2 linked regions of the Homo sapiens genome follow. The protein of the gene in region 1 interacts with the protein of each later gene in a pairwise test. Each region holds a gene or a part of one and is shown in the gene's direction. Other genes may lie near its edges.

The links.
Region 2: the proteins of SLC9D1 (region 1) and GLP1R interact in a protein complementation assay, tested with the Homo sapiens proteins (one study listed by BioGRID).

Annotation. Positions count from the first base shown.
Region 1 is NC_000013.11:113,528,733-113,532,549, forward strand, and holds part of SLC9D1 (transmembrane and coiled-coil domain-containing protein 3 isoform 1 precursor), read left to right. Parts: exon of another isoform or gene 1-1,891; intron 1,892-2,608; coding exon of another isoform or gene 2,609-2,945; exon of another isoform or gene 2,946-3,817. UniProt on the Homo sapiens protein: Probable Na(+)/H(+) antiporter.
Region 2 is NC_000006.12:39,083,188-39,087,004, forward strand, and holds part of GLP1R (glucagon-like peptide 1 receptor precursor), read left to right. Parts: intron 1-2,718; coding exon 2,719-2,886; 3' UTR 2,887-3,817.

The DNA of each region.
Region 1 (3,817 bases):
CCTTATGATAAGAGGGTCCTTATCATGGCCATTTTCCTTTGATCCAGATGTCTTTAAATATCAGAAAAATAACGCTTTTAGTCCCAACCGCCACATCGGAATCAGTTCTTATTCCTTCTGGCTACAATGTCCAACATAAGTTGAACAACATAATTTGGACAACAGAAGGAAGGGTTGTCATGCTAGCCGGAGATGACTTCTAGTTAAGAGGTCTGAGCATTTTCCACGCACAACCAGTTATTCTCAACGGAGGGCGGACTCTCCATACGAAACAAGCAGAGCCCTGGCAGAGACTGCAGGGCATTTGTAAAACTCAAACACCACGTTGATCTCACTGCCACGTTCTTTCCAGTTACACGCAGGTCTAACATGCTGGCATAAGACATTGTCTTAATCAGAACACTTTTAAAGCTTTTTTTTCCCTTTTTTCCAATTCAAAAAATTAATGCAGTACAGGTATTGATCCCACCGAAATTGTTCTAATTCAGTCATGACACTTCATGTTTACAAAGAGTTGATGACTTGGAAAAATACTCTGTAATGCTGTTAAACTTAAGAAACAGAATCGGGCCGGGTGCAGCGGCTCACGCTGTCATCCCAGCGCTTTGGGAGGCTGAGGCAGGAAGATGGCTTGAGAGCCGGGCGCAGCGGCTTCCGCCTGTCATCCTAGCGCTTTGGGAGGCTGAGGGGGGCGGATCACGAGGTCAGGAGATCGAGACCATCCTGGCTAACACGGTGAAACCCCGTCTCTACTAAAAATACAAAAAATTAGCCAGGCATGGTGGCACGTGCCTGTATTCCCAGCTACTCGGGAGGCTGAGGCAGGAGAATCACTTGAACCCAGGAGGCAGAGGTTGCAGTGAGCTGAGATCACGACACTGCACTCCAGCTTGGGCGACAGAGCAAGACTCTATCTCAAAAAAAAAAAACAAAAGAAACAGAAACAGAGTCAGAATTGTAGACCACGTTCCTCCTGACGCTAACACAGAGCTCCCATTTGACCCAGCTGTTCGCTCCTCGGTATTTACCCGCAAGAAACAAAAACACACATCCACATTCAGACTGATACACGGTGGTGATGGGGGTACAACAGTGTGAATCCACCTGATACCACAGAGTTACACACTCAGAAATGGTTAACATGGTACATTTTATTGTATGAGAGTTTCACCACAATGAAAAACTTGTACCTGAATGTTCAAGCAGCATTATTCGTATAGTTAAAAAGTATTAAGAACTCAAATGTCAATTAGATAACAGGTAGATATACAAAACATACTATATTCAGCAAAGGAATATTATTCAGCCATAATATAGAATGAACATTGATTCATCCTATAGCACAGATGAAGCACGATGCTTCTGAAAGAACCGGACAAAAAGTCCACACGCTGTGTGATTCCATTCATACCAACGTCCAGACTAGGCCAGTCCGTACAGACAGGATGAATTACTGGTTGCCGGAGGGTGGGGAGGTTGGGGGAGATGGGGAGGAAGTGCTGATGGGTACAGGGTTTCTTTTTGGGATGATGAAAGTATTCTAACATGGATTGTGGTAATAGTTGTGTAATTTTGTGAATATGCTGGAAACCATTGAATTGTATACTTTAAATGGGTAAGTTGTATGGTAAGTGAATTATATATCATAGCTGTTAAAAATATATACGATATTTTAATTAGACATAGAAGAACATGAATAGAGACTAGAAATATATATATGTATATATAACAAGGTGTTAATGATTTTCTACTAGTAGACTGGTAGATTTGTACTAAGTTTTTTCTACTATATATACTTTTCTGTAATTTAGGAAAACCTCCCTTTCAATTTTAATAACGAGGGAAAATTTATATTTAAAATATCAAAGAAATAAAATTAGTTGCAACATAATAGACTCTGCTTTCTTATTAAGCTTTATTCAGAATTAACCTTGATCATTCCTAGAGGAAAGAACTCTTTCCCTCAAAATATTTCACAGGTAAAGAACAGAACACAGAAGGCTGTAATAAAGCAAAACAGATGTTTATGCCCATATTAAAGACAGAGGCTTATGTTTCTTATTTTATAAAGGTCTCCTATACCTTAATAAGAAAAATATGAATAACTGAGTTTGAAAACAGGTCAGCAGCAAAGCAGCTATTAGACTTGAGTAAAGTAGGAAACACCCACCCTCACACCAAAGAAGGGTGATGGCACCACCCGCCCATCAGACTGGGCACCATTAGAAGCTGGGTGGTGCCCAGGTTGGGAAGTGGGGTACCTTGGGCATCATTGTTGGGATGGGAATTGGAGCAACTTCCTGGCGGCCCACCAGACAGCACCTGTCATAGTGGGAGGCACCCGGCTCCCTTAGTGAGCACCCACTGCCACCATCAGTGGACCCACAGGCTCCTTGGTCACCGCAGCGCCCAAGAACCAGGATGGCCGTGGAGTCAGTGTGAGAACCGGGACAGCCCTTGCATCTGGCTGAGCAAATGATGGTGCGTCCCGCCAGGGAGCCCTTCCTCACCTGTCCGCTGGCCAGACATGCTGATGGGAAGCTTGTCCACTCACCTGTCCGCGGGCCAGACGTGCTGATGGGAAGCTTGTCCACTCACCTGTCCGCAGGTCAGATGTGCTGATGGGAAGCTTGTCCAAACACGCTGAGACAGTCAGAACAGCCGTGGACACGGCGCCCCGTATGTGCAGATCAAGAGCAGCACACGCGTGGACCTGCAGGTGGCACGGCGCCCTGTACATACAGATCAAGAGCAGCATGCGTGTGGACCTGCAGGTGACACGGCGCCCCGTACGTGCAGATCAAGAGCAGCACACGCGTGGACCTGCAGGTGGCACGGCACCCCGTACATGCAGATCAAGAGCAGCACACGCGTGTGGACCTGCAGGTGGCACGGCGCCCCGTACGTGCAGATCAAGAGCAGCACGCGTGTGGACCTGCAGGTGACACGGCGCCCCGTACATGCAGATCAAGAGCAGCACGCACGTGGACCTGCCGGTGGCACGGCGGCAAGCCGGAATCCTGAGAAACTTGTCACGGTGATTGTCTTTCAAAGAGGTCAGAGTTGAGCGCACTGTGGCTTCTGATTGGCATCTTTCTGAGCCCTCATCACTGTGCATTTAATGGACACTGTGGGAGTCTTCTGGGAATTAGACCTAAATCCAAACCCTGGGGATGGTGGCTGTGGAGAGCTTGTGTAGCCGTTAGGGGCTTGGTCCTGGAGCCAGATACCTGAGTTGTCCCCAGCTCTCTGCACTGGGCGTGTGGCCTGGAGCAGATCACCTGGTCTCTGCCCCTGTTCTCATCTGTGACGTAGCAGTGGGGATCGTACAGCTCTTACCAGGCTGCCATAATAGGTGGCACACAGTGCTCTGCACACAGTGCTCTAGGGGCTCAGGATGCAAGGGTGAGCTCAGCAGAGGACGTTCCCCATGTGGGGAGCTGCTGTTGTGTTTTGGAGAGGCAATGAATGAATGATGCACAAATGAGTGGTAGACAAGACATCCGCAGCAGGGAACCGCCCTGCGAATGATTCAAACAGGAAGAGGAGCTGGTGAGCAGCCGTGAGCCCCCAGACGCACAGGCTCTACCTTTGGAGATGTGGCTGGAATTTGAGGAATGCAGCTAAGCCTGTTGGGAGAAGAGTCTAGGGTAGGGACCTCCCAGGCAAGGGGCTCTGTGGCCTGTGTGGGTGGGCTGGGGCAGTGGAAGGGCATGGCAGGGCAGAGAAGCCTGGGTTCCATCCCAGCGTCCAGGAGCTGATTGAGGGTCCTGATGAGCTGTCTGGGCCTCTGTGTGGAGAGCAGATGGATCAGGAG
Region 2 (3,817 bases), on another chromosome or scaffold:
GGGGTCCAGGAGACCCTGCTCAGAGAACGGGAGAACCTGTCTCCCTTCAGAGCACCAGCCAGTTCCTTTAAACCCACCCTGAGACTCCTCATGCCCTGGCTGCTCCAGGCACAAGGACAGATACATCATTGTCACTGGGCCACAAAAGACACATGTGGCTCTGGGGCTAAGGCCTCTGTCCACAAGAGCTGTTCTGCAGACCCAGGGTTGCCATGGCAATGCCAGGTACTTGTGACCTGAGGAGAAAAGATGGCTTGAATATTGGTTCTGTGTGGCTGCCAAGGCCTGCACCAGCTGCTGGTGGGCGTGAGTGGGGACAGGGAGGGGGAGGCCTGAAGGTGGTTTTGCTGTAGCTTGTGCCTGAGAGCCACAGTGAGGTGACTCAGAGCCCTGAGTGCTTGTCCCAGCCCTGCCACTGCCGAGCTGTGTGACCTGGGGCAAGTCATTTTGCCTCCCTTGCCTCTGTCTCCCCAGCCGTAAATGAAGGTGAATGAGCTTCCCAATTCACCCCGAATCCTGAGGCTGGCATGGTGCCTGCTGGAGAGGGAGGTCAGGAGGGGTGTGCTGCACTGCAGAGGTCGAGGGCAGGGATGAGGATAAAAATCCGATGGTGGAGGAGGAAGTGTGGTGGCCTAAGTCCCAGCCCAGGTGCTCAGAATCTGTGGTGTTGTCTTTGTGGGTTCATTTTCATAGCTGAGGAACAGAAGGAACCTGATGTGAGATGCTCATGCATTTATGTGTTCATTCATTTGGTTCATTTAAAACACATGTACTGAGCACCTGCTGTATGCTGGGCACTGTGCTAGGTTCAGGGATGCTGAGATGAAGAAGATGTGGTCCCAGCCCTCGAGGTGCTCCCAGGTGAGAGGTAGGAGATGGACCAGGGACAAGCAGGACTGCAAGAGCCACGCAGGCAGGAGGCCAGGGGTTAGGAGCCGGGCATTGGAATCAGGCCAGATCTAGGTTCAAATCCTGGCTGAGCGACCTGAGGAAATAAACACTCTGCACCTCAGTTTCCTCATCTTTAAATGTGGAGCTACTTTGCAGGGTTGATGTGAAAGTCAGCTAAGATAATTAATGGAAAATTCTGTGCATACAGTAAGTGCCCAATAAATATGGTGATTTTCAAGGACAATCGTGATTACAGGGGTCACAGCAGAGGTTCAGGAAAAGTGCTGAAGGAGATGGGGGCAGAAGGAGACACTGTGTGTCAGCACCCTGAGAAGTCCCATAGGTGTCCCTGAAACCTCTCTTTGGTCTCTGGTTTCCCGGAGGTGTGCCTCAGTTTACCATCTTTCCCCCCCTCTCCAGCGGAAGGGCTATGAAACAAGCCTGGCCTCCTGGCAGCTGCACAAGTGGGGGCCACCACTGGACTCAGGGCCCCCATCCCAGCTGTCAGCATGCGCTCCCTTCACAAAGACTCAGCCGGGCAGGGAGCTGGCATACAACAGGGTGGCTGTAGGTGGTGTCTGCTCAGCCTCCTTCCCTCCCCCACTCAAGCTTGGGTTCATGACGCTGCATGGGACACTGGCGTCATCCTGGCAGGCAGCCTCTGGGCCATCTCAACTCTACTCAGTGCAGAAAATGTTCTTTTAAGGGATGGCATGCAGCCATACCAGGCGTCTTGCTGGGCATAGCTGGATGGACGACAAAGGAGGAGAGGAGGGTTGTTTGCACAGGGGCTGGTGGGGAGATTGGCCCCTTATCCACAGCCGCTGGCATCTGGCTGTCTTGGTGACTTGGCCTAAAGGGAAGGGCCCAGACCCCAGACACTCTGGTGTGGGAAGGGTGGGGACTTCAAAGAAGCTCTGGAAAGCAAATGTATGGGAACATCACCCAGAAGAGCAGTCCAGACCCCCCAGGACTAGCTTGGCAGGTTCCAGCTAGGCCTCTCCAGGGACCAGAATCACTGGCCACCACCGGGAGCCACAGCATTGCCACAAACCCTCAAGGGATGGGGGCTCCACAGTGTTACTTGGATTTGTCTCTTTCTGCCCCAACAATCTGGCCCCCAAGCATCAGCCCTCCTGAGAGGCTTTTCCTGATGGGGAGGCCAGAGCCCAGCACAACAGGGATCCTGGCTGACTGAGCTCCCCTGGGCTGCACCCCCATGGTCACTGCAGTGTCTCTCTAGATGGCATCAGTTGAGAAGCCCTCACTGGCTGCCCCTTCCTCCCTGCTGTTTCCCGTCTCAGCCACATTCCTTCCTTCCCTCCCTCCTCCCCTGTGAGGTGCTGGGGCCTGGAGAGAAGCCCTCAGGGAGTTTAGAAGGGTCTGCTGTAGACACCAGGAAGGCTGGGGGTTGCCGTCCCCCTTCTCAAGCATCCAAGCTGAAACTGGACTGTGCGCTGTAAAGACAGAGTCTCTCTTCTCTCTCCCATCTCCTGTCTCCCTGTGTTTCACCCTCCCTCTCATTCTCTTCCGTTAAATAATACTGTGATGGATTGTAAAAGGTACTTAGCTGAATCACAGAGTTTAGAGATGGAAAAGACCAATTAGGTCATCAAGCTGATCTCTCTCCTGAGGAGCTGCAGAAAATAGGAGACAACAATAAACAATTTTATTGGGATATTAATTTAGGAGCCCGAAGGCCTTGACTTGTGTCTCTTAATATAATGCAGTGGATTTCTTCCCTTCCCCACTAATGTAATAGTGGGGCCATTTTGTTAGCCATTGGTTTGCATGATGGCTTTCGTTTCCCTCCTTTTCCCATGGAAGGTCCAGCTGGAATTTCGGAAGAGCTGGGAGCGCTGGCGGCTTGAGCACTTGCACATCCAGAGGGACAGCAGCATGAAGCCCCTCAAGTGTCCCACCAGCAGCCTGAGCAGTGGAGCCACGGCGGGCAGCAGCATGTACACAGCCACTTGCCAGGCCTCCTGCAGCTGAGACTCCAGCGCCTGCCCTCCCTGGGGTCCTTGCTGCAGGCCGGGTGGCCAATCCAGGTGGGAGAGACACTCCCAGGGACAAGGGAAGGAAGGGACACACACACACACACACACACACACACACACACACACATACATCCTGCTTTCCCTCCCCAAACCCATCAGACAGGTAAATGGGCAGTGCCTCCTGGGACCATGGACACATTTTCTCCTAGGAGAAGCAGCCTCCTAATTTGATCACAGTGGCGAGAGGAGAGGAAAAACGATCGCTGTGAAAATGAGGAGGATTGCTTCTTGTGAAACCACAGGCCCTTGGGGTTCCCCCAGACAGAGCCGCAAATCAACCCCAGACTCAAACTCAAGGTCAACGGCTTATTAGTGAAACTGGGGCTTGCAAGAGGAGGTGGTTCTGAAAGTGGCTCTTCTAACCTCAGCCAAACACAGAGCGGGAGTGACGGGAGCCTCCTCTGCTTGCATCACTTGGGGTCACCACCCTCCCCTGTCTTCTCTCAAAGGGAAGCTGTTTGTGTGTCTGGGTTGCTTATTTCCCTCATCTTGCCCCCTCATCTCACTGCCCAGTTTCTTTTTGAGGGGCTTTGTTTGGGCCACTGCCAGCAGCTGTTTCTGGAAATGGCTGTAGGTGGTGTTGAGAAAGAATGAGCATTGAGACGGTGCTCGCTTCTCCTCCAGGTATTTGAGTTGTTTTGGTGCCTGCCTCTGCCATGCCCAGAGAATCAGGGCAGGCTTGCCACCGGGGAACCCAGCCCTGGGGTATGAGCTGCCAAGTCTATTTTAAAGACGCTCAAGAATCCTCTGGGGTTCATCTAGGGACACGTTAGGAATGTCCAGACTGTGGGTGTAGATTACCTGCCACTTCCAGGAGCCCAGAGGGCCAAGAGAGACATTGCCTCCACCTCTCCTTGGAAATACTT